3 separate regions of the Homo sapiens genome follow, and regions 1 and 3 are each linked to region 2. The links come from fine-mapping of genetic effects on gene expression. A gene starts in region 2. Each other region holds a variant in brackets. All regions are shown on one strand. Distances are from middle to middle.

The links.
Region 1: its variant is fine-mapped to the expression of NMRAL1 in whole blood (TOPMed, PIP above 0.99).
Region 3: its variant is fine-mapped to the expression of NMRAL1 in Th17 cells (Schmiedel 2018, PIP 0.95).

The regions. Positions count from the first base shown.
Region 1 is chr16:4,523,268-4,531,446 of GRCh38, reverse strand. The region is part of intron 1 of CDIP1 (cell death inducing p53 target 1); the gene reads left to right. Among named protein-coding and RNA genes, the nearest start is that of CDIP1, 11 kb to the left of the region's middle. RefSeq lists enhancers at 1,064-1,715, 1,716-2,368. The variant C/T (reference allele first, on the strand shown) is at 4,379.
Region 2 is chr16:4,471,091-4,479,269 of GRCh38, reverse strand. NMRAL1 (NmrA like redox sensor 1) reads left to right here and starts at 4,645. Exons shown (of 6, transcript NM_020677.6): 1 at 4,645-4,716; 2 at 5,104-5,177. The coding sequence starts at 5,138. It overlaps HMOX2 (heme oxygenase 2), which reads right to left and starts at 2,872. Exons shown (of 6, transcript NM_002134.4): 1 at 2,783-2,872. LOC124903636 (a long non-coding RNA gene) reads left to right here. Exons shown (of 3, transcript XR_007064964.1): 3 at 1-6. RefSeq lists an enhancer at 2,575-3,076.
Region 3 is chr16:4,806,741-4,814,919 of GRCh38, reverse strand. It overlaps GLYR1 (glyoxylate reductase 1 homolog), which reads left to right. Exons shown (of 16, transcript NM_032569.4): 11 at 273-383; 12 at 1,082-1,183; 13 at 2,672-2,834; 14 at 3,118-3,297; 15 at 3,626-3,750. Among named protein-coding and RNA genes, the nearest start is that of ROGDI, 8.2 kb to the right of the region's middle. The variant C/T (reference allele first, on the strand shown) is at 4,369.

The DNA.
Region 1 (8,179 bases), 52 kb before region 2:
CACTCACACCTATAATCTTAGCACTTTGGGAGGCTGAGGCAGAAGGATCACTTGAGGTCAGGAGTTTGAGACCATGGCAAACATGGCGAAACCCCGTCTCTAAAAATACAAAAAAAAAAGGCCGGGCACAGTGCCTCACACCTGTAATCCCAGCACTTTGGGAGGCCGAGGTAGGCGGATCACGAGGTCGGGAGATCGAGACCATCCTGGCTAACACGGTGAAACCCCATCTGTACTAAAAATACAAAAAACTAGCTGGGTGTGGTGGCAGGCGCCTGTAGTCCCAGCTACTTGGGAGGCTGAGGCATGAGAATTGCGTGAACCTGGGAGGTGGAGGTTGCAATGAGCCGAGATCACGCCACTGCACTCCAGCCTGGTCTCTGATGTCTGAGTCATAGAGAAATATATACATGGCCAAGCAGATGGCAGTCCCAATCATGACGTGAGCTCCTGTTTTCCCAAGCTTCCAGAATAAGTCTTCTGTCCCAGCCAGCATGAGTGAACTCAGGGCCAGATGTTGACTTAGAGTTACAGGAACTTAGGCAAAAACTGCAATTACTTTTGTACCAACCTAATAAACTTCTATATACTATTTCTTTCTTTTTTTTTGAGGCAGAGTCTTGCTTTGTTGCCCAGGTGGAGTTCAGTGGCGCACTCAGTTCACTGCAGCTTTGAACTCCTGGTCTCAAGTGATCCTCCTGCCTTGACTTCCCAAAGTGCTGAGATTACAGTCCTGAGCCACAGTGCCTGGCCTACTGTATACTATTTCTGTTTTTTTTGTTTTTGTTTTTTTTTTTTGAGATGGAGTCTCACTCTGTCGCCCAGGCTGGAGTGTACTGGCGCAATCTCGGCTCACTGCAAGCTCCACCTCGTGGGTTCAAGTGATTCTCCTGCCTCAGCCTCCCGAGTAGCTGGGATTACAGGCATGTGCCACCACGCCCGGCTAATTTTGTATTTCTAGTAGAGATGGGGTTTCTCCATGTTGGTCGGGCTGGTTTCGAACTCCCGACCTCAAGTGATCCGACTGCCTCAGCCTCCCAAAGTGCTGGGATTACAGGCGTGAGCCACTGCACCCAGTCTATATACTGTTTCATATAATGCAGTGTAAACTACTAATTCAGTTTGTTTCACACCCAACCAATGTAAGTGAATTCTTAGGGTCAGATGCCAACTAAGAGTGATAGAAACTCAGTTAACTAATTTCCATATGCTATATACTGTTGCATCTAATGTAGTGTAAAATACAAATTAGATTCCCACTCTCAGTTCCTAGAGCGCTTTCTTCACCCATCAGAAATGTCTTCAAAATAATTGAAAGAATGCCCTGTAACATGAGAGATCTAAATGTCGCAGGGATGAGCCACTGTCCTCACTGTTCTGAGGGAAAATTGCTGGAGGGGGAGCTTCTGTGTACAGGTATGTATGGTGACTGACACATTTGGAGGAAGAAAGCCTAGAGGTTTGCTTTTCCACATCCCACCCCGACCCACGGAATAGGGGGACTCAGGCAAGACCTGGCCGCGGGCAGAGCCCAGCTCCCTGGCTAAGGACGGCCAGGAGACATTTGTGTCTGAATTAAGACTCTTCCACCTGGGTGGCCGTGAGTGGCCACGTGTCTTGACTGCACTTAACGGCCTGGTGCTTTTTTGTAGGTTGCAGTGGTGTGTCTTGATCTCATCCAACAGACAGCTGGTTGAATAGAGTCAACCCAAGACTGTCCATTTTGTGTCTGCTCAGTACAGGCAGACAGAAGGATTTTTTTTAAGGGCTCCATTTTGAGCACTTAAATGATGGTTCTTTAGGTTCATGCTGTTTCTAAAATTAGTCAGCCTTGTAGTTACCAAGGCCTGCCTGTGGGACAGGTGCAGATGACTTGTTTATTCACTTGTGGTTGAGCTGTGTCTGATTTTTTCCTTTTGCTCTGCATTTCCCCTCCTGTCTGTGCTTCCTTCATTTTCTCTGCTAGCAGGAGAGCATGCAGGAACAAGCTCTTGAGCAGCGTTCTGCCTGGGAGGTAGTTCAGAGTCCTGGCGAGATCACTGGGCGAGTTGGGAGGCCGGGGCTGTGTCCTCAGCATGGGCTCTATCACTCGTTTTTATTATGCATCCAACGGGGACTTTCTTACCAGCCCTCTTTGGTCAGGTGACCTCCTGCTGGGTCTCCTGGCGGGGTCTCCTAGGCTAGCAGGACTGTGAGGTCATTACATTCCAACTTTACAGATCTAAACTTTCCATTTGCCTGGAGTACCGGGAGGTGATCTGGCAGAACTGACTCATTTGACCAAACTCATGGGAGACCTATGGCCATAAGGGGCTGGCTTTGGAGAGGAGGCCACTAACCAGTCCAGGCCTCTGGCTTGCTCTGCAGAGCATTTTCTCCTGTAGGTGAAATTAGATTATAGTCTGAGGTGTGTTTCTGGATTGAGGAGTATGAGGAGTAGTATATATATATTTTTTTGAGATGGAGTTTCGCTCTTGTTGCCCGGCCTGGAGTACAATGATGCGACCTCAGCTTACTGCAACCTCTGCCTCCTGGGTTCAAGTAATTCTTTTGCCTCAGCCTCCCAAGTAGCTGGAATTACAGGCATGCGCCACCACGCCTGGCTAATTTTTGTATTTTTAGTAGAGATGGGGTTTCACCATGTTGGCCAGGCTGGTCTCGAACTCCTGACCTCAGGTGATCTGCGTGCCTCAGCCTCCCAAAGTGCTGGGATTATAGGTGTGAGCCACCGCGGCCAGCCTTTTTTTTTTTTTTTTTTTTTTTGAGACAGGGTTCTTCCCCACTGTTGTCCATGCTAGAGTGCAGCGGTGCAATCATGGCTTACTGCAGCCTCCACCTCCTGGGTTGAGTGTTCCTCCCTCTTCAGCCCCCCAAGTAACTGGGATTATAGGCGTGAGCCACTGTGTCTGACTTATAATGAGCATTTTGAGGAAGGAGTCATGTAAAGGTGCTGCCTACCATTAAAAAACTAGAAACTCCACATCAGTAGAACGTTTCTGTATGTGTACTTACATATAAACAAATCCCCTAAACTCCTACTGCCCAGAAAAACTGTTAATATGTGTTATGGAAGAGTGCAGTGGCTCACGCCTGTAATCCCAGCTCTTAGCGAGGCAGAGGCTGGAGGATAGCTTGAGCTCAGGAGTTCGAGACCTGCCTGGGCAATATATCAGGACGCTGTTCTCCACAAAAAGGAAAAAACAAAGACAAAAAATGTGTTACGTATGTAAATACATCTAAAGAAGAATCACACTGTGCTACTGCTTTTTTATTCTTCACTCACTGCTATATTAAAACCATTTTTCTATGTCAATAAAAATCTATATCATTGGCCAGGCATGGTGGCTCATGCTTGTAATTCCAGCACTTTGAGAGGCCAAGGTGGGCAAAATCACCTGAGGTCAAGAGTTCGACACCAGCCTGGCCAACATGGTGAAACCCCATCTCTACTAAAATACAAAAATTAGCCAGGCTTAGTGGCGGGTGCGTGTAATCCTTGTTATTCAGGAGGCTGAGGCAGAAGAATTACTTGAACCCGGGAGGCGGAGGTCGCAGTGAGCCTAGACTGCACCATTGCATTCCAGCCTGGGCAACAAGAGCGAGACTCCATCTCAAAAAACAAAAACAAAACTATATCATTTTTTAGGGGCTGAATACAGTTACATTATATAGCTAATCACATGCATGTAACCAGTTCCATTTTCTTGAACATCAAGACAGTGGTGCATATAAACATCTTTGCCTGTGAATCTGTGTTCACATGTCCATTTACCTCTAGAACGAATACATTGAAGTGGAATTGAGTCCATAAGAGTGTACAGGTAGCAAGGCTGTCCAGGAAAGTTGTACTGATCCACTATGCTGTGGCCCCGTGCTGTGGACGGAGTGTCACCAAGTGAGAGTGGTTTGCCAGGAGGTTTTACTAAAATTCAGCATGATATAAATTGCACAGTAATTGTCATCATCATAGTTCCTAGAGGCCTTAGTACTTTTAGGTTTAGAACCATTCTTTGAGTCCTGTCTGCCTTTTGATTTTGCTTCTGCTTAAGAGCAACAGTGTCACCGGGTGCGGTGGCACTTGCCTGTAATCGCAGCACTTTGGGAGGCCGAGGCAGGTGGATCACGAGATCATGAGATCAAGACCACCCTGGCTAACACGGTGAAACCCCGTCTCTACTAAAAATACAAAAAATTACCCAGGCGTGTTGGCGGGCGCCTGTAGTCCCAGCTACTCGGGAGGCTGAGGCAGGAGAATGGTGTGAACCCAGGAGGCGGAGCTTGCAGTGAGCCAAGATCCCGCCACTGCACTCCAGCCTGGGCGACAGTGCGAGACTCCGTCTAAAAAAAAAAAAAAAAGTAACAGTGTCTTCTTTTTTCT[C/T]GTGTACTTCCTCTCTCAGGCTCCTGTGGCAGGCCTTCAGTGGTGTGCTCTTCACCCATGGCCTCTCCCGTGACTCATCACAATTCTTGATAAGGGGCTGCTCCTACCGCCATATCACAGATGAAAAAAAATCTGAGACTGGAGAGTCAGGTGGCAGGGCAGGGTGGTGGGCGTGGGGCCTGATGCCTGTGCCCCACTCGGTGCAAGATTCTGCCCCTGCAGCTCTGCCTGCGACACAGGGCTCATGCTTCTGTTGGAGGGCGCAGTGGTGTTTGGGGCCATGGGGTTGGGCTGATGTCTTTTTTATTTTATTTTTAATTTTATTTTTATTTTATTTTTTATTTTATTTTTATTTATCTTTTTTTTTTTGAGATGGAGTCTCACTCTGTTGCCCAGGCTGGAGTGTAGTGGCGCGATCTCAGCTCACTGCAAGCTCCGCCTCCCGGGTTTGCACCATTCTCCTGCCTCAGCCTCCTGAGTAGATGGGACTGCAGGCGCCCGCCATCATGCCTGGCTAATTTTTTTGTATTTTTAGTAGAGACAGGTTTTCACCATGTTAGCCAGGATGGCCTCAATCTCCTGATCTGTGATCCGCCTGCCTTGGCCTCCCAAAGTGCTGGGATTACAGGTGTGAGCCACCGTGACCAGCTATTTTTTATATTTTGAGACAGATTCTCAGACTATTGCCCGGGCTGGAGTGCGACGGTGTGATCTCGGCTCACTGCAACCTCCGCCTCCTGGGTTCAAGTAATTCTCCTGCCTCAGCCTCCCGAGTAGCTGGGATTACAGGCGGATGCCATCATGCCCAGCTAATTTTTGTATTTTTTGTACAAACAGAGTTTCACCATGTTGGCCAGCCTGGTCTTGAACTTCTGCCCTCGTGATCCGCCCACCTCTGCCTCCCAAAGTGCCGTAATTACAGGCATGAGCCACCGTGCCTGGCTAGGCTGGTGTCTTATTTCCGCTGAGACTCATCATGGTCGAGGAGGAGCATGTAGGGTTGGGTGGGAGGAGAGCTGGCAGATGGGAAAACCAGATCTGTTTTCTGGTCCTTTCTGTGACTTAAGTTGAGCTTGTTTTGAAGTGTTTAGAATTCCCAAGGCATCAGATACACCCATCTTCAAGTGTAAAAATAAATAAATGGTTCAGAGCCACCCGCGATGTTATCTGAGGGAGGGACTGTCTCGTCCTGCCTCCATCAGGACAATGGGAAATGGGCCATGTTCAGGATTTTCCAGGCCTGCCTGTGCTAGAACTTGGCAGCCGAGGACAACGGTCCCAGAGAAGGGGACACATTGGCAACCTCCCTGAGTCTTGGGAGGGCTCAGCCTCACTAGAGGCTGCTCTGCAACTGAGTGGACCTTTGTGGAGGGCCTCCTCTTTCCTGCTCATCACCCAGCGTTGGGAATAGGGTCCCTCTGGTCAGCTGCGAAAGGCCACAGGGAATCCTGGCCTGGTCCCACATGGACTTGGGTGGCTGGATTAGCCCCAGGTTTGGATAGGGCATGGTGGAGAGGGGAGTGGAGAGGGTTTGGGGCCCAGGAGCAGTCTCACAGCAGGGGCTCCCTTTTGAGCACCTCCTCACTTGGAGCACTTCCTTCATGTCCCTGTGCTGGGCACCTGCATCCAAACAGTGCATGCTCTATTAACGTTCACTGCACGCCATCGTCCTCCTCAGCTCCTCCTTGAGCCAGTGCTCATGCTGAAATGAGCACTGGAGTTGCAGAAGAATGTGTCCTCGCTCCAAGGCAACCAGCTGCACTTCTCTCGGGGCCTGTTTTAACTACGGAAGCATCTGCTCCAGCCTTCCCGCCAGGGAGTATTCCCCATGCCTTGGCCTCTGTACTGGCTGAGGCTGTGTCATGTGACCTAAAGAAAGCCATGATCCTTTTGATCATGGATCACTTGAAGAGAACTTGTGTTCCTTCAGACCTAAGGAACTGTAGAGATATATTTTTGTGGTGGAGGGGGGATAGAGTCTCACTCTGTTGCCCAGGCTAGAGTGCATTGGCGTGACATAGCTCTTTGTAGCCTAGAATCCCTGGGCTAGAACAATCCTCCCGCCTCAGCCTCCCAAGTAGCTGGGACCACAGGTGTCTATCACCATACCTGGCTAATTTTATTTTTTTGTAGAGATGGGATCTTGTTATGTTGCCCAGGCTGGTCTTGAACTCCTAGCTTTAAGCAGTCCTCCCACCTTGGCATCCAAAGTGCTGGAATTACAGGTGTGAGCCACTGCACCTGTCTGTGCTGTATATTTGTAATGACACTTGTTAATACTTAACCTGAAAATAATTTACCAATAATTAACCAGTAAACCAAGTTTTATTACTCATGTGGAAGATGTGGGAGGTGGTCAGTTAGTTGCTGGTGTGGTGTCCCATGGCTGTCCTAGGCACTGGCCTCCATCCCAAGGCCCTCATGGTGAAGCACAGCTACTGGAGCCATGGCATCTATCTTCCAGGTGGTAGATGGGAGGAAGGCAGGAAAGATGAAGGGCCTGGCTCCGGGCTGAGTCGGCTTGCCCTGAATGCCTTCTTATGGTCTGGACACTTCTGCTTACAGCTCATTAGCCAAAGCTTTGTCACTCTAAGAAAGCTCGGGGACCCTCTTGGTTGATGGACTTGCCCTGAGTGAAAGTGGAGTTCTGTATTCAAGAATGGGGGAGAGAGTGGATTTGGGTGCAGCTGGCAATCTCCAGTCTGTACTTCATTAGGCGGAACATTGCTGTTTGAGATCTTGTTATTCTGCCTTCTTCCTTTGCAGTGTGATGTGGAGGAGCACAGCACAGCTCTGTATGGGTGGTGGTATCTGCGTAGTAATTCATGGAAGGCGTCTCCAGCAATACAGCCTGGACATCTACATGTGGGATTTTGTTCAGCCTTCCAAGAACCTCATTTTGCACGTGGGGAAACTGAGGCTCAGAGAGGTTGAGGAATTTGTCTAGGGCTGCAGGCCATCAGCGGCGAGGCAGGGTCCCAGGGAGACCTGTGCTCTCCCAATATTCTATTGACAGTCAAGCAAAGAAGACCGCTGTCTTTGTTTCCAAGTGCCACAATGCAACAAGGCTGAATGGTGCCGGAGGTCTCCTGGGGAAGCCTAAAGCCTGAGGAGAAGGGCCTGGGACACTGTCCAGCTGGCCTTGTCATCCTTGTCCTGGAGATCTGAGGTATTTGAGCTCTGGAACAAACCCTGTGGCTGGGTCGCTGTGAGGGCCCCAGGCTGCCATCTGGCCACCCTCAGGGGCACATCCCTCCTTCCTTAGGCCTTGTGTACTCACTGTTCCCTCTGCTGTCCCCATCCCTCCCTTTGCCTGCTGGTCTCATTAACTCTTCCGCCACCTCCTCCCAGGTTTGCTTGAAGAGATGGTGTTAGAGCTCCAGAACGGCGATCTTGCTGTCCTTCTACTGTGCCCTGGACTTTCTCGATACCACTGGTCACAGATGTAATTGTGTTTGTGGTTTTTTGGCGAGGGGGGTGATTATTTAACGCTCATCCTCTTCACTTGACCGTAAGCTTCTGGAAGGCAGGGACATGTCTTTTTTTTTCTTTCTTTGAGATGGAGTCCCGCTCTGTCGCCAGGTTAGAGTGCAGTGGCGCGATCTTGGCTCACTACAACCTCCGCCTCCTGGGTTCAAGTGATTCTCCTACCTCAGCCTCCTAAGTAGCTGGGATTACAGGCACGTGCCACCACGCCCAGCTAATCTTTGTATTTTTAGTAGAGACGGGGTTTCACCGTGTTGGCCAGGATGGTCTCGATCTCTGGACCTCGTAATCCGCCCTCCTCAGCCTCCCAAAGTG
Region 2 (8,179 bases):
CCAAAAACTTAGGCTCATCAAGTATTAACTTCCTGCCTCAGCCTCCCAAGTAGCTGAGATTACAGGTATGTGCTAGCATCCTACTTATTGTTCACTCTGATAGAATTTTTTTTTCTTTGAGATGAAGTTTTGCTCTTGTCGCCCAGGCTGGAGTGCAATGGCATGATCTTGGCTCACTGAAACCTCTGCCTCCCAGGTTCAAGCAATTCTCCTTGCTCAGCCTCCCGAGTAGCTGGGATTACAGGCTACTTTTTGCAAGGCTAATTTTTGTATTTTTAGTAGAGACGGGGTTTCACAATGTTAGCCAGGCTGGTCTCGAACTCCTGACCTCAGGTGATCCACCCGCCTTGGTCTCCCAAAGTGCTGGGATTACAGGCGTGAGCCACCGCACCCAGTCTAGGTCAAGTTTTTCATCTCTTTCCTTTCCAAGGAGTTAAAGCTGAATTTCAAATTTTACAGTGAAATACACAATTCTAATTTTCTTTCTTTCTTTTTTTTTTTTTTGAGATGCAGTTTTGCTCCTGTTGCCCAGGCTGGAATGCAGTGGCACAATCTTGGCTCATCGCAACCTCTGCCTCCCAGGTTCAAGTGATTCTCCTGCCTCGGCCTCCCAAGTAGCTCGGATTACAGGCACACACCACCATGCCCAGCTAATTTTTGTATTATTATTATTTTTTTCTTAGTAGAGATGGGGTTTTTCCATGTTGGTCAGGCTGGTCTCTATCTCCCGACCTCAGGTGATCCGCCCATCTCGGCCTCCCAAAGTGCTGGGATCACAAGCATGAGCCACTGCACCGGGCCCACAATTCTAATTTTCAAATATATCTTCCTCCTGGAGGAGTGATATTCCAGTTTTGGGTGCAATCCTGATGTAGAGCCCAACTGTCCTGTGAAGAGAGTCAGCTGTTAAAAGGAAACCAAAAAATCAAGGTAGCTCTAGCTGTCCAATTTTACAAGTTTTCAACAGACTTGATGAGGGGTGAGCTAAAGGCGGTCAATGCTTTATTGTCTGTAACTCACTGGCACTGGCATTTCTAGAGTTGCTCACGTTCCCCCTTTTGGTGACTCACAGCACTTCAACATGTTGCCACAGCCAAGGAAAAAAGGAAATCAAGTCAGACAATGGAGGAATCACAGGATTTCCCTCTTCACATCCCCAGGTAGATGAGGTCATTCAATGAGTGTGTTTCCAAGGCTCCACAAATTCCCACACCCTCACCAGTGTTTAAACCTGAATGTTTTATCTGATAACTTTTTCTAATTTCACCAAGTAAGCTTATATATGTCTTAACTGTGAACTCCTGATAAGCACAAATTTTGTCTTGTGATAATTTATTTTTTTCTTTTTTGAGACAGGGTCTCACTCTGTCACCCAGGCTGGAGTGCAGTGATGCGATCTCAGCTCACTGCAATCTCCACTTCGTGGGCTCAAGTGATCCTCCAACCTCAAACTCCCCAGTAGCTGGGATTACAGACACGCGCCACCCCGCCCGTTTAACTTTTTTGTATTTTTAGTAGAGACGGGGTTTCACCATGTTGGCCAGGCTGATCTCGAACTCCTGACCTCAGGTGATCCGCCTGCCTCGGCCTCCCAAAGTGCTGGGATTACAGGAGTGAGCCACTGCACCGGCCAGCGTTTCTTTCTTCAATCACACTCCACCTTGTCTGGTTTGTAGCGCCATCAACAAAACACAGTACGTAAGGATGGACAGCCACAGGCCACGACAACCGGCTCATCAGAAGCGATTTTTTTTTTTTTTTTTTTTTTTTTTAGATGGAGTCTTGCTCTGTCGCCCAGGCTGGAGTGCAATGGCGTGATCTCGGCTCACTGCAACCTCTGCCTCCCGGGTTCAAGCGATTCTCCTGCCTCAGCCTCCTAAGTAGCTGGAGCTACAGGCTCACGTTACCATGCCCGGCTGATTTTTGTATTTTTAGTAGAGACGGGGTTTCACTATGTTGGCCAGGCTGGTCTCGGACTCCTGACCTCAAGCAATCCGCCCGCCCTGGCCTCCCAAAGTGCTGGAATTACAGGCGTGAGCCACCGACCCGGCCCAGACGCGATTTAAATGGCATGACACAGGCAGGCCTCGTGCAAAGACTGCAAGGAGGTCCCGGCAGCTTTTGCAGGGCAATTAATCCACCCAGAGCACTGCGCTCAGAAAGTAATAGGTAAACCCGCGTCCGGACTAACCGGCTGCCCCCACACTTGATCCCTCCCAGTCCGACTCTGCTCCAGGGCGTACCAGGGTTCACTCGTGAAGTCACGACACCCACTCAAGGGGCACTTCCTATAGAGATAAGGGCATTAGAGGAAGGGCAGAGCCCCGGTCAATGCCAACAGCCCGGGAAACAGCCAAGCCGGGCTCCAATCTCTGCCGGCATCCCCTGTCTGCACCGCCGACGCCCCCAGCTACGACCCCGGGGGTCACCTCGCCCAGCATAGCCGTGACGCTGGGAGAGGGTGGGCCCAACGGGGACGCCAAAGAGAGCCATTCAGGCCTCCCCGCGCCCCCGGGGAGACGACTTCTGGAGAGCGGCGTCCGCGGTTTCGCCCTCCCCTGACAGCCCCTCCACGCCCTTCTTCGTCCTTCTGCCCGGCCTCACCCAGCTTCCGGCCGCCCCCGGCCGGGTCTCCCCTCAGACCGGCGCAGGGGACCCAAAGGGCTGTGGCCCGGCCAAGCCCAGGTCCGAAGGCCTGGACCGAGGCAGGGCCCGCGAAGGACGCAGCGCGGTCCGAGAAGCCGGGCGGAAGGAAGGCCCCGGGAGGGCGCGGACAGCTCACCTGCCGCAGGTCGCTGTCGCCTGTCCGCCAGCCTCCAGTCAGCGTGCCCGTCAGCGACTCCCTCAGGCGCCGCAGTCCCTGCAGCCCAGCGGACTGGCGCGAGGCCGGCGCAACGTGGGCACGCAGCGCGGGGCGGGGCCTAGAGATGACACGCCCCTTGTAGCTGACACGCCCTTGCCGGGGGCGGGAAGCGGAGTATGTGGCTTTCCCCAGGTCTCTGGAGGTTGCAGGCTCAGGCTCTGCTCAGCGGGGTAAGTAGGCGTGCTTCGGCAGGAACACTAGTGTTCACAAGAGCCGAGGTGTGTGAGGGTGCCTCAGGGTTGAGCACTTTTCTTCCCCAGTGTGGTTTAATCCTTGTACATCCACTCAGTGATGTAAGAAATAGGGTTGTCAACCGTGGCACCACCCACTTGGTCACTTGCCAATGCAATCTGCGAAACTGAGTCTCAACTCTGACACCTCGGTTACCAGTCTTGTATCTGATCTCCCTGTTGCATTATTCGCATTCTTCAAACAGCGGCCAGAATGACAGAATGATTTTTCTTTTTTTGAGACCGAGTTTTGCTCGTCGCCCAGGCTGGAGTGCAATGACGTGATCTCGGCTCACTGCAACCCCCTTCTCCCGGGTTCAAGCGATTCTCCTGCCTTAACCTCCCGAATAGCTGGGATTACAAGCGCCTGCCACCACGCCCGGCTAATTTTTGTATTTTTAGTAGAGACGGGGGTTTCACCATGTTGGCCAGGCTGGTCTCGAACTCCTGAGCTCAGGTGATCCACCCGCCTCGGCCTCCCAAATCACTGCAATTACAGGCCACCGCACCCAGCCCAGAGTCATTTTTTAGTTTTACTGAACACAAAGAAATTACTGAAATCGTGGGCCGGGTGTGGTGGCTCATGTCTGTAATCCCAGCACTTTGGGAGCCTGAGGCGGGAAGATCACTTGAGGTCAGCAGTTCGAGACCAGCCTGGCCAGCATGTTGAAACCCCGTCTCTACCAAAAATACAAAAAAATTTTAGCCGGGCATGGTGGCTCCTGCCTGTAATCCCAGCTACTCAGGAAACTGAGGCAGGAGAATCACTTGAACCCAAGAGGCGGAAGTTGCAGTGAGCCAAGATCGCACCACCACTGCACTCCAGCCTGGGCCACAGAGCAAGACTCCACCTTGAAAACAAAAAACAAAAACAAAAAAAAACTGAAATCAGTGCAAGTAGCAGCAACTTCAGAAGTGAGTTAGGGCTGGGCACGGTGGCTCCCACCTGTACTCCCAGCACTTTGGGAGGCTGAGGTGGGTGGATCACTTTAAGTCAGGAGTTCGAGACCTGCCTGGTCAACCTGGTGAAACCCCGTCTCTACTAAAAAATACAAAAATTAGCCGGGCTTGGTGGCACATGCTTGTAATCCCAGCTACTCGGGAGGCTGAGGCAGGAGAATCTCTTGAACCCGGGGGGCGGAGGTTGCAGTAAGCCGAGATCGCGCCACTGCACACCAGCCTGGGCGACGGACCAAGACACTGTCTCAAAAAAATAAAAATAATAAAATTTTAAAAGTGAGTTAGGCAAAGAAAATATCAAGCGGACAAGGCCTCAAGGGATAAGACTCATGGACATAGCTTTAATTATCTTTGCCTGACGCCCAATACCTGAAAATTAAGATGTTCATGCAAGATAAAGAGGTAATTTTTCTCCTCCTCCCAGTCATCACCCGTAGCATCCGGTTAAGAGGCTCTCCACCTCGCTCATTTTGGTCTAACTGGATTTACACAAACTCACTGTGCACGTGCCTGGGGCGGGCAAACCCGGAAACGACGCCGAGTCCCGCGGGATCCAGGAGGAGCCAACTGCGCCGGAGGAGGGGTTTCGGCCGACACGTCGGGATTGGCGGCTGCAGCCAGGGGTCCTCCGACGCTGGGCTTCCGTGAGCGGCGCTCTGCCAGGTGGGGCCGGAGCTGCGGGGAGGGAGTTGGCGCCTAGCGCGCAGCTCCATCCCCGCCTCTGCAGTGGACTCGGCCGCAGAATCGGGGTCCCGGGCTCCTGGAACTTGTCCCGCCCAGGCCGCGGCGAGGAGGTCACTCCAGCCGGTGGGACCCGGGCCGGGGGGCGGGTGACTGGAACCGGGGGAGGCGGGAAGGAGGAGGGGATCGGGCCCAAGGGACACGAGGTGGGTCGCGGGACCCCGATATCTCGGGACAGGCGTCTTGCCGCTCCGGGCCCAGCCGCCCCCTTCGACACATACTCGATGCATAGACAATGGGGGTGTCCTTTGTCGCTCCTGGCGGGAACCCCGGCCCCACCCCCAACTCCACGCCTCCCATTACCCCCAGATCTCTGGACCGGATTCGTCCCATTCTCGTCCTCATGGTGGACAAGAAACTGGTGGTGGTTTTCGGAGGCACAGGTGAGCCAAACCCCAGACTGGGGCCCTTGCAGAGCCAGGGCGCCTAGCCCTGAAGACCGCCCGTCCTGGGGTCTGCAGGGAGGGGTAAGGTCACTGGGACCCCCGACCCAGGTTGGGGCTGTGGTCGCAGGAACGAGGCCCAAATTGCTTTCCAATTTTTTTTTTTTTGGACGGAGTTTTGCTCTGTCACCCAGGCTGCAGTGCGATGGCACGATCTCGGCTCATTGCAACCTTTGCCTCCCGGGTTGAAGCGATTCTCCTGTCTCAGCCTCCCGAGTAGCTGGGATTACAAGGGCATGCCACCACGCCCGGCTAATTTTTGTATTTTTAGTAGAGACGGGGTTTCATCATATTGGTCAGGCTGGTCTCAAACTCCTGACCTCAGGTGATGACCCGCCTCGGCCTCCCAAAGTGCAGGTATTACAGGCATGAACCACCACGCCAGACCTGCTTTCCAAATTAAAAAAAAATGAGTTACTTAACTTATTTGAATAGGAGTACTTGAACATGATACCAAAATTAAATCTTCTTCCTAGCCTCCTCTTCCACCTCATCTATTGCTGTTACCAAGTTTCTTGAATATCCTGCCAGAGTAGATAACATGTTATCATTTTTTCAAATGATAGCATATTATTTCATTCCTATTTTTTCTTATTTATACATATTTAATATCTCTAACAGCTTTATTGAGATATAATTCACGTACTATACAATCTACCTGTTTAAAGTGTGCAACTCACTGGTTTCTAGTGTATTCATAGAATTGTACAACCATCACCACAATCAATTTTAGAAAATTTCCATCACTCCAAAAAGAAACTCTGGCCCAGGTGCAGTGGCTCAACCCTGTAATCCCAGCACTTTAGTTGGACCAAATGGGCAGATCGCTTGAGCTGAGGTGTTTGAGACCAGCCTGAACAACAGGGCAAAATCTCGTCTCTACAAAAAAATACAAAAATTAGTGGGGCGTGGTGTCATGCACCTATAGCTACCTAGGAGGTTGAGGTGGGAGGATCACCTGAGTCCAGCAGGTCAAGGCTGCAGTGACCTGATTGTGCCACTGCACTCCAGCCTGGGCAACAGAGTGAGACCTGATCTCAAAAAAAAAAAAAAAAAAAAGAACTCCATGAACCCGTGAACAGTTACTCCCCATTCTTACTCCTCCCAGCCAACCCCTAGAAAGCTCCAATCTACTTTTGGTTTCTATGGATTTGTCTATTCGGGACATTTCATATGAATAAAATCATAATATGTAGCCTTTTCTCTCTGGCTTCTTCAGTTAGCATGTTTTCAAGGTTTGTTCATGTTGTAGTGTGTGTCCGGGCTTTACTCTTTTTTTTTTTTTTTTTGAGACAGAGTCCCGCTCTGTTGCCCAGGCAGCAGTGCAGTGGCGTGATCTCTGCTCACTGCAACTTCTGCCACTCGGGTTCAAGCGATTCTCCTGTCTCACCCTCCTGAGTAGCAGGGACTACAGGCGTGAGCCACCATGCCTGGCTAATTTTTGTATTTTTAATAGAGATGGGGTTTTGCCATGTGGCCAGGCTGGTCTCAAACTCCTGACCTCAGGTGATCTGCCCACTTCAGCTTCCTAAAGTGCTGGGATTAGAGGCTTGAGCCACCGCGCCCGGCCAACTTTACTTTTTTATTTTTAAGACAGAGTTTCTCTCTTGTTGCCCAGGCTGGAGTGCAATGGTGTGATCTCTGCTCGCTGCAACCTCTGCCTCCCGGGTTCAAGCAATTCTCCTGCCTCAGCCTCCCAAGTAGCTGGGATTACAGGTGTGCACCACCACACCCAGCTAATTTTGTATTTTTTAGTAGAGACGGGGTTTCACCATGTTGGTCAGGCTGGTCTCGAACTCCTGACAGCTTTACTTATTTTTATGGCTGAGTAATATTCCACCGTATGGATAGACTATATTCTGTTTGTCCATTCGTCAGTGGATGGATACTTGATTTATTTCCACTTTTTGGCTATTATGAATAATGCTGCCATGGAACATTGGTGTACACTTTTTTCTGAGTCAGGGTCTTGCTCTGTTGCCCAGGCTGGAGTGCAGTGGCTCAATCATCACTCACTACAGCTTTGACTTCCAAGCCTCAAGCAATCCTCCTGACTCATTCGCCTGAGTAGCTGGGACTTCAGATGAGCGCTAACAGGCCCAGCTGATTTTTTAATTTTTTGTAGAGACTGGGTCTCACCCTGCTGCCTAGGCTGGTCTCAAACTCCTGGCCTCAAGCAAAACCCATCCCCCTTACCCTCCCAAAGTGCTTAGATTACAGCTATGAGCTACTGTGCCCGGCCTCAGTCCTTATTTTTGATGCATTTCTGTGTAAATTGCAGATATGTGTACACCGCCCTTCCATACTAAAGCATGCATAACATTAGCTAGAATTCAGTATTTGTTTATAGATTATTTTTAATTATGAGGTAAAATATACATATAATAAAGAATTTTTTTTTTTTTTTTTTTTTGGAGACAGGGCCTTACTCTGTTACCCAGGCTGGCGTGCAGTGGTGTGATCACGGCTCACTGCAGCCTCAACCTCCTGGGTTCAGGCTTTCCTCCAGCCTCAGCCTCCCTGGTAGCTGGGACTACAGGCACATGCCACCACGCCCAGCTAATTTTTGGTTTTTTTTTGTAGAGATATGGTTTCACCATGTTGCCCAGGCTGGTCTCAAACTCCTGAGCTCAAGAGATCTGCGTGCCTCAGCCTCCCAAAGTGTCTGGATTACAGGCATGAGCCCCTGGGCCCAGCTGCAACGCGCAAAATCTTAAGGGTACATCTGACCGATGCGCATGCCTGTGTGACTCAAGCTCCATCGAGATCTGAATAAGTTTTTGTATTCCTTTCTGTTAACTATTTTTCTTTGTCTCGTTTTTGAGCAGATCTGAATATGGTTGTGTATCTGAATATGGCTTTATATTCTACTTCAGGAAGAATTCAAATCCCATCAAGATCTGAATATGGTTTTTTCTTTTGTTTTGAGACAGAGTCTCACT
Region 3 (8,179 bases), 340 kb before region 2:
CATACCCCATTCTTGAAACAGCATACCTTCAGCAGACACTTGTGAAGCAGTTCATCATCCTAGGCACTCGTCATGCAAAAACTGAAGATGGCCAGTAAAAGGCCCCGTGCACTTCCCCAAAAGTTGGGCTCCTATCTCCATGACCCAGGCTCCCGGCCTCAGCCTCCTGCCTTGGTAGGCCGCCAGGAGGCCTGGTCAGCAATTCTCTGGCCTGGCTGGCATGTTTGTTGTGCACTGCCTGCAGCTCACGTTAGGATCTGTGACTTTTGCAGTGTGATTTGTTCATCCAGGAGGGGGCCCGTCTGGGAAGAACCCCCGCTGAAGTCGTCTCAACCTGCGACATCACTTTCGCCTGCGTGTCGGATCCCAAGGCGGCCAAGGACGTAAGGACCCCCTCCCTCCCCTCAGCAACTCCGGGTCACAGCCAGGATTGCTGGCTGGCCTCTTCCCCTCCTCCCCTGCACACCAAGTGAGTGTCCACATGTGGGGGGCTGAATTTCCCATCAGGGGCCATCTCCCATTGTGAAGGGTGTTTGCATTAATTGAATACAGACTTCCTTTAATTCAGATCAAAGAATGAACACTACTAGGGCCCTTGAAGTCTGTGCTGAAATGTGTCTTGAACAGGCTTCATGTGTTCTTGTTGAACTAGAAGCTTTGGAACTGAATGTGCCTTTGGTCCAGGTGCCAAGCTTCTATGTTTAGCTGTCACTGTATTTGTATATTTTAGAAGTTCAAGTGTGGTAGTCATCTTATTAAACTGGTGACTAGCCTAATCCAAGTAAATCCAAAGAAGTCCCCAAAGTAAATGCTGAGGTTTATTCTTTTAAATGGGGTTTGTTTTTTTTTTTTTTTAAATAAAAAGAAATGCACACACTCACATAGATTCTTTTTAAAGATAAATGGGAGCATGCGGGAAGTACTTTTCTATCCCTTGCTTATTTCATTGTTCTTCCCTTTTCAGCTGATAGAAATCAGGAAATGAGCCAAAACAGCAGCAGGATTCTGATCTGAGGTCTGTAGGGCTCCTGAGCATCTGCCCGGGAGCCTGGGCTATTGCTTCTCCCTTGTGTCCCCACAGCTGGTGCTGGGCCCCAGTGGTGTGCTGCAAGGGATCCGCCCTGGGAAGTGCTACGTGGACATGTCAACAGTGGACGCTGACACCGTCACTGAGCTGGCCCAGGTAGCAGCCTTCCTTGGGCTGGCTCTCCAGCATCTTTTCTATCAGAGCCCAAGACCCAGGCTTACAAGAGTGGGCAGTTAAGTTACTCTAGAGCCAAAGCCAGAGAGGGAAGAGGAGAGGCGAGTAGCCTTGGGACTAGCCTATCCCGTGCTCCACCTTCAAACCGCAGCTAGTCTGAACAGCCATGGGCAGTCGCTGCATGGCTGGGATGGGCATCAAGTCCTGGAGCTGCCAGCCTTATGATGAGAAGCAACCCAGGCCGCCCGCCTGGCATTGGGGTTTGAGCAGCTGTCTGCATTTGACACTGGCAAAGCATCCCTCCTCCCCGAGCATCTGGCCCAAATAAGGGAGTGGGGACTTTGGGACCCACATATGTTCTGAGGGGAGGGCAGCATCCACAGGGGAGGTGTGTGTTCAGCCGAGCCATTGACATGGTCACATCTGGTTCTAGTTGTTGGTCTCTAAGAAATTCCAGTCCGGGCGCGGTGGCTCACGCCTGTAATCCCAGCACTTTGGGAGGCCGAGGTGGGCGGATCACGAGGTCAGGAGATCGAGACCATCCTGGCTAACACGGTGAAACCCCATCTCTACTAAAAATACAAAAAAATTAGCCGGACGCGGTGGCGGGCACCTGTAGTCCCAGCTACTTGGGAGGCTGAGGCAGGAGAGCGGCATGAACCCAGGAGGCGGAGCTTGCAGTGAGCTGTGATCGTGCCACTGCACTCCAGCCTGGGCAACAGAGCAAGACTCCGTCTCAAAAAAAAAAAAAAAAATTAGCCAGGCATGGTGGCGGTTGCCTGTAGTCCCAGCTACTGAGGAGGCTGATGCAGGAGAATGGCATGAACCCGGGAGGCAGAGTTTGCAGTGAGCTGAGATTGCGCCACTGCACTCCAGCCTGGGCAACAGAGCAAGACTCTGTCTCAAAAAAACAAAACAAAAAAATTCCGGCCAGGCGTGGTGGCTCACTCCTGTAATCCAAGCACTTTGGGAGGCCGAGGCGGGCGGATCACAAGGTCAGGAGATCAAGACAATCCTGGCTAATATGGTGAAACCTGTCTCTACTAAAAATACAAAAAATTAGCCAGGCGTGGTGGTGGACGCCTGTAGTCCCAGTTACTCGGGAGGCTGAGGCAGGAGAATGGCATGAACCCGCGAGGCGGAGCTTGCAGTGATCCGAGATCGCTCCACTGCACTCCAGCCTGGGCGACAGCGAGACTCCACCTCAAAAAAAAAAAAAAAATTCCAAGTCAGTTGGGTTCCTGTGTGGAGACCCCAGCGTCTCATCACTGCTGTGATTCGGCCTGTGTGACCTGCACATGGTTAGCTCCTGAGTTTAGGTGTCAGCTAAAGGACCTTGGTATGGGTGGCCGTCCCCTCCAGCTCTGGAAGGTGATGAGCAGCCGTGGCCACTCAGCAACACTCCTTGAGTCCTGCCCAGAGAGCGCTGGGAGAGGGGAGGCCTCCAGAAGCTGTGACTTTTCTTTCCAGGTGATTGTGTCCAGGGGGGGGCGCTTTCTGGAAGCCCCCGTCTCAGGGAATCAGCAGCTGTCTAATGACGGGATGTTGGTGATCTTAGCGGCTGGAGACAGGGGCTTATATGAGGACTGCAGCAGCTGCTTCCAGGCGATGGGGAAGACCTCCTTCTTCCTAGGTAACACGCCTGCACCTGTCAGGCCTGGAGCCTGGGGCCACATCTCCTCTGTTTCACACTGATGACAGCGTCAGTCCCACACGGCCTTTCTGCCGGGGACCCTGGGGAAGGTTTCCTTTCACCTGCATAGTCAGTGCGTGGAAGGAGGAAGAGCCAGTCTGTCGGGGGCAGGTGAAGGGGGCCTCCCCTGGAGAGAGGTGGGTCTGAGCAGAGGTGAGGGTGGACAGAGAAGCCCTGTCTGTGGCATTCTTGGGCTGTGACCGTGAGTCTTTACCCTGGGCAGGTGAAGTGGGCAATGCAGCCAAGATGATGCTGATCGTGAACATGGTCCAAGGGAGCTTCATGGCCACTATTGCCGAGGGGCTGACCCTGGCCCAGGTGACAGGCCAGTCCCAGCAGACACTCTTGGACATCCTCAATCAGGGACAGTTGGCCAGCATCTTCCTGGACCAGAAGTGCCAAAGTGAGTTGTTTTTGGCCCCTCTTCTTGCATTTGGTGTTTGATTAGAGCAGGGTACTAGGTCAGGGATTTAGTGAGCGTGAAAGATGCCCCTCCCCAGTCAGTCCCTGACCCTGGCCAGAGGAGGTTCAGAAACACAGTGGGCGGGATTTGGGGATATAGGCTGGGAGCTGCAGCCCTCAGGTGTCTAAGGGTGAGTGAGGAGCCAAGAGGCCTAGGCTATGTGGAACTGAGCCCTGAGTATGTTTTAGGTACTGACACCTGGTGGACCGTAAGTAGTTTTTAGTTTCAGGTCCTTGGCTTTTGTCTGATACTGGCTTTTTCTCCTCAGATATCCTGCAAGGAAACTTTAAGCCTGATTTCTACCTGAAATACATTCAGAAGGATCTCCGCTTAGCCATTGCGCTGGGTGATGCGGTCAACCATCCGACTCCCATGGCAGCTGCAGCAAATGAGGTAGGGTAGATGTGGCCCAAGCCCCAAGGCCCTTCAGTTTCTTTTTCTTTCTTTTTTTTTTTTTTTTAACGGAGTCTCACTCTGTCACCCAGGCTAGAGTGCACTGGTGCGATCTCAGCTCAATGCAACCTCCGCCTCCTGGTTTCAAGCAATTCTCCTGCCTCAGCCTCCTGAGTAGTTGGGATTATAGGTGCCCACCACCATGCCTAGCTAATTTTTGTATTTTTAGCAGAGATGGGGTTTCTCCTTGTTGTTCAGGCTGGTCTCGAACTCCTGACCTCAGGTGATCCACCCGCCTCTGCCTCCCAGAGTGCTGGGATTACAGGCATGAGCTACCACGCCCAGCCATTCAGTTTCTTTTTCTTTTTCTTTTTCTTTTATTTTGAGACAGAGTCTTGCTCTGTCGCCTCAGGCTCTTGCCACCACGCCCGGCTAATTTTTTTTTTTTTTTTTTTTTTTTTTTTTTTTTTAGTAGAGACAGGGTTTCACCATGTTAGCCAGGATGGTCTCGATCTCCTGACCTCGTGATCTGCCCGCCTCGGCCTCCCAAAGTGCTGGGATTACAGGTGTGAGCCACTACACCTGGCCAAGTTTCTTTTTCTTTTATCGTTTCCTTCC[C/T]TCTACTTAGTTTAGCTTTTCTTTGTTCTTTTTCTTTTTTTTGAGACAGAGTCTCACTCTGTCGCCCAGGCTGGAGTGCAGTGGTGTGATCTCAGCTCACTGCAGCCTCTGCCTCCTGGGTTCAATAGATTTTTGTGCCTCTGCCTCCCAAGTAGCCTCCCAAGTAGCCTGGGATTACAGGCGTGCCCCAACCCGCCCTGCTAATTTTTGTATTTTTAGTAGAGATGGGGTTTTGCCATGTTGGCTAGGCTGTTCTCCAACTCCTGACCTCAGGAGAGCCACCTGCCTCAGCCTCTCAAAGTGCTGGGATTACAGGTGTGAGCCACTGTGTCTGGCCTCTTTGTTCTTTTTCAAACCCTTTAAAGTGGAATCTTAAATCATTTATTTTAATCCTGCTTTCTTTATAACATGAGTATATAAATCTTTAAATGTCCACTAATCCGTGTTAATTTGTTTTCTGATTTCTTCTTTGATCCATGAATTACTTAAAAGTTTATCTAGTGTTTGGGTTTTCCTAGATATCTAATGATTATTGATTTTTAACTTACTGCTCTATGATCAAAGAACATGCCCTGCCCTGTATTGGGTTTTTTTTGTTTTTTTGTTTTTTGTTTTTTTGTTTTTTTTGGAGACAGAGTTTTGCTCTTTCGCCCAGGCTGGAGTGCAGTGTCGCGATCTCGGCTCACCGCAACCTCTGCCTCCCAAGTTCAAGCGATTCTCATGCCTCAGCCTCTTGAGTAGCTGGGATTACAGGCACACACCACCATACACAACTGATTTTTGTATTTTTAGTAGAGATGAGGTTTCACCATGTTGGCCAGGCTGGGCTTGAACTGCTGACCTCAGGTGATCCGTCCACCTCAGCCTCCCAAAGTGCTGGGATGACAGGCATGAACCACCACAACCAGCTGCCTGTATGATTTTTTTTTTTTTTTTTTTTGAGACGGAGTTTCGCTCTGTCACCCAAGCTGGAGTACAGTGGCACGATCTCGGCTCACTGCAAGCTTCGTCTCCCGGGTTCACTCCATTCTCCTGCCTCACCCTCCTGAGTAGCTGGGACTGCAGGCGCCTGCCACCATGCCTGGCTAATTTTTTGTATTTTTAGTAAAGACGGGGTTCCACTGTGTTAGCCAGGATGGTCTCATTCTCCTGACCAAGATGTTGAAACCCCTATCTCTACTAAAAATACAAAAAATTAGCTGGGCATGGTGGCAGGCACCTTTAATCTCAGCTACTCAGGAGGCTGAGGCAGAGAATTGCTTGAACCTGGGAGGCGGGAGGTTGCAGTGAGCCTAGATCGCACCACTGCACTCCAGCCTGGGCAACAGAGTGAGACTCCATCGCAAAAAAAAAAAAAAAAAAACGAAAGCTGCTACAGCCTTCTCAGGCTTATTGTTTTCATGGTATGTATATTTTTCCATCCATTTCCTCTCTTATTTATGTCTAAATTATGGCTTTGATAGACAGTATGTAATTGGGGTTTGGATTTTTATCCATTTTGACAGTATCTGCCTTTTAATTAGCATGTCTATTAGCATTTTTCAAATGATGTTTTAAGCACTTAACACGTGCACTTTTTTTATATTTGAGACACAGTCTCACTCTCTTGCCCAGGTAAAGTGCAGTGGCACAATTATAGCTCACTGCAGCCTTGACTTCCTAGGCTCAAGCAATCCTCCCACCTCAGCCTCCCGAGTAGCTGGGACTATAGGCGTGCACAACTGTATCCAACTTCACATACACTTTCGAAAAGCTTTTTAGGGTAGAAGTTCCGCTTTCTTAGCTCATCTTCATAGAATTTGAATCTAAAAAAAAAACAACTGAAAAACATTTGTCTTTACCATATTATTATAATAAAAATGACACTTTGTGAAACAGCAGCTGTATTTTTAAAGTACTATCAGCTGATACACTTTTATTTTATGTTATTTTATTTTATTTTATTTTATTTTAGAGACCGAGTTTCACCCTTGTTGCCCAAGCTGGAGTGCAATGGTGTAATCTCGGCTCACTGCAACCTCTGCCTCCTGGGTTCAAGTGATTCTCCTGCCTCAGCCTCCACAGTAGCTGGGATTACAGGTGCCTGCCAGTACTCCTGGCTAACTTTTTGTATTTTTAGTAGAGATACGGTTTCACCATGTTGGCCAGGTTGGTCTCAAACTCCTGACCTCAGGTGATCCACCCACCTCAGCCTACCTAAGTGCTGGGATTACAGGCGTGAGCCATGGCACCCAGCCAGTACTGTTCTTTTGACACCTGGCTTTTCATAGTATAATTCTCTGTTCCTGAATTGTATTTTTTTTTTTTTTTTTTTTTGAGACAGAGTCTCACTCTGTTGCCCAGGCTGGAGTGCAGTGACATGATCTCAGTTCACTGCAGCCCCCACCTCTTGGGTTAAAGTGATTCTCCTGCCTCAGCCTCCCAAGTAGCTGGAACCGCAGGCATGCACCGCCACACTTGGCTAATTTTTGTATTTGTAGTAGAGACAGGGTTTTACCATTTTGACCAGGCTGGACTCGAACTCCTGGCCTCAAGTAATCCGCCTGCCTTGGCCTCCCAAAGTGCTGGGATTACAGGCATGAGCCACCGCATGCAGCCTTGTTCCTAAATTCTGTCTTCTGTCTCTTGTCTGTTTCAACATTTCAGAGTACTTATTTCATGACTCTTTCAGATTACATTACTATTTCAAGTCCCCCCTGTTCATTCTACCAGTGGATTCTCTCTGGATAGTAGAATTCGTTGTGTATTTTATAAGTCTTTTTTGATGAAAGCTCATTTCTGACTATAGTTATTTCCCAAGGGTTTCATGTGGCTTGGGCTGGGAAAGCTTCTCTTTGAAGTGACTTCCAAGTTGCCTCCACCCTGACTACAGGATTCATTGGCTTGGAAGCAGAGTTTTTAGGTTAATTTCTCAATGCAGCTCGCTGCTTTCAGGTCGTTTGGATGGTATGAGCTTAGACTCTATACTGTTAGGAGTTCAGAGGTTAGGTTCTGAAGGTTAACTGGTGCATTGACCTTTAGTAGTTGTATTGATATGTGGTTCAATTTGGGGCTGCCATTTTATCATTTGATTTCTGTTCGTTGTCTTTGTCTTTTGTTTGTTCCTCCTTTCTTACTTTCTTTTTAGAATTCCAGTTTCAGCTGGGCACGGTGGCTGACACCTATAATCTCAACACTTTGGGAGGCTGAGGCGGGCAGATCACCTGAGGTCAGGAGTTCGAGATCAGCCTGGCCAATATAGTGAAGCCCAGTCTCTACTAAAAATACCAAAAATTAGCCGGGCATAGTGGCGGGCACTATTAATGCCAGCTACTCCGGAGGCTGGGACAGGAGAATCACTTGAACCCAGGAGGCGGAGGTTGCAGTGAGCCGAGATCGTGCCATTGCACTCCAGCCTGGGCGACAGACCAAGACTCCGTCTCAAAAAAAAAAAAAAAAAAAAAAGGGGCCAGGCGCAGTGGCTCACGCCTGTAATCCCAGCACTTTGGGAGGCCGAGGCGGGTGGATCACGAGGTCAGGAGATCAAGACCATCCTGGCTAACAGGGTGAAACCCTGTCTCTACTAAAAATACAAAAAATTAGCCAGGCGTGGTGGCGGGCGCCTGTAGTCCCAGCTACTCGGGAGGCTGAAGCAGGAGAATGGCGTGAACCCGGGAGGCAGAGCAGAGCTGGCAGTGAGCCGAGATCACACCACTGCACTCCAGTCTGGGCGACAGAGCAAGACTCCATCTCAAAAAAAAAAAAAAGAAAAAAGAATTCCAGTTTCATTTATCTATTTTCTTTTTTACTTTGCCTCTGCATTCTTTTTTTA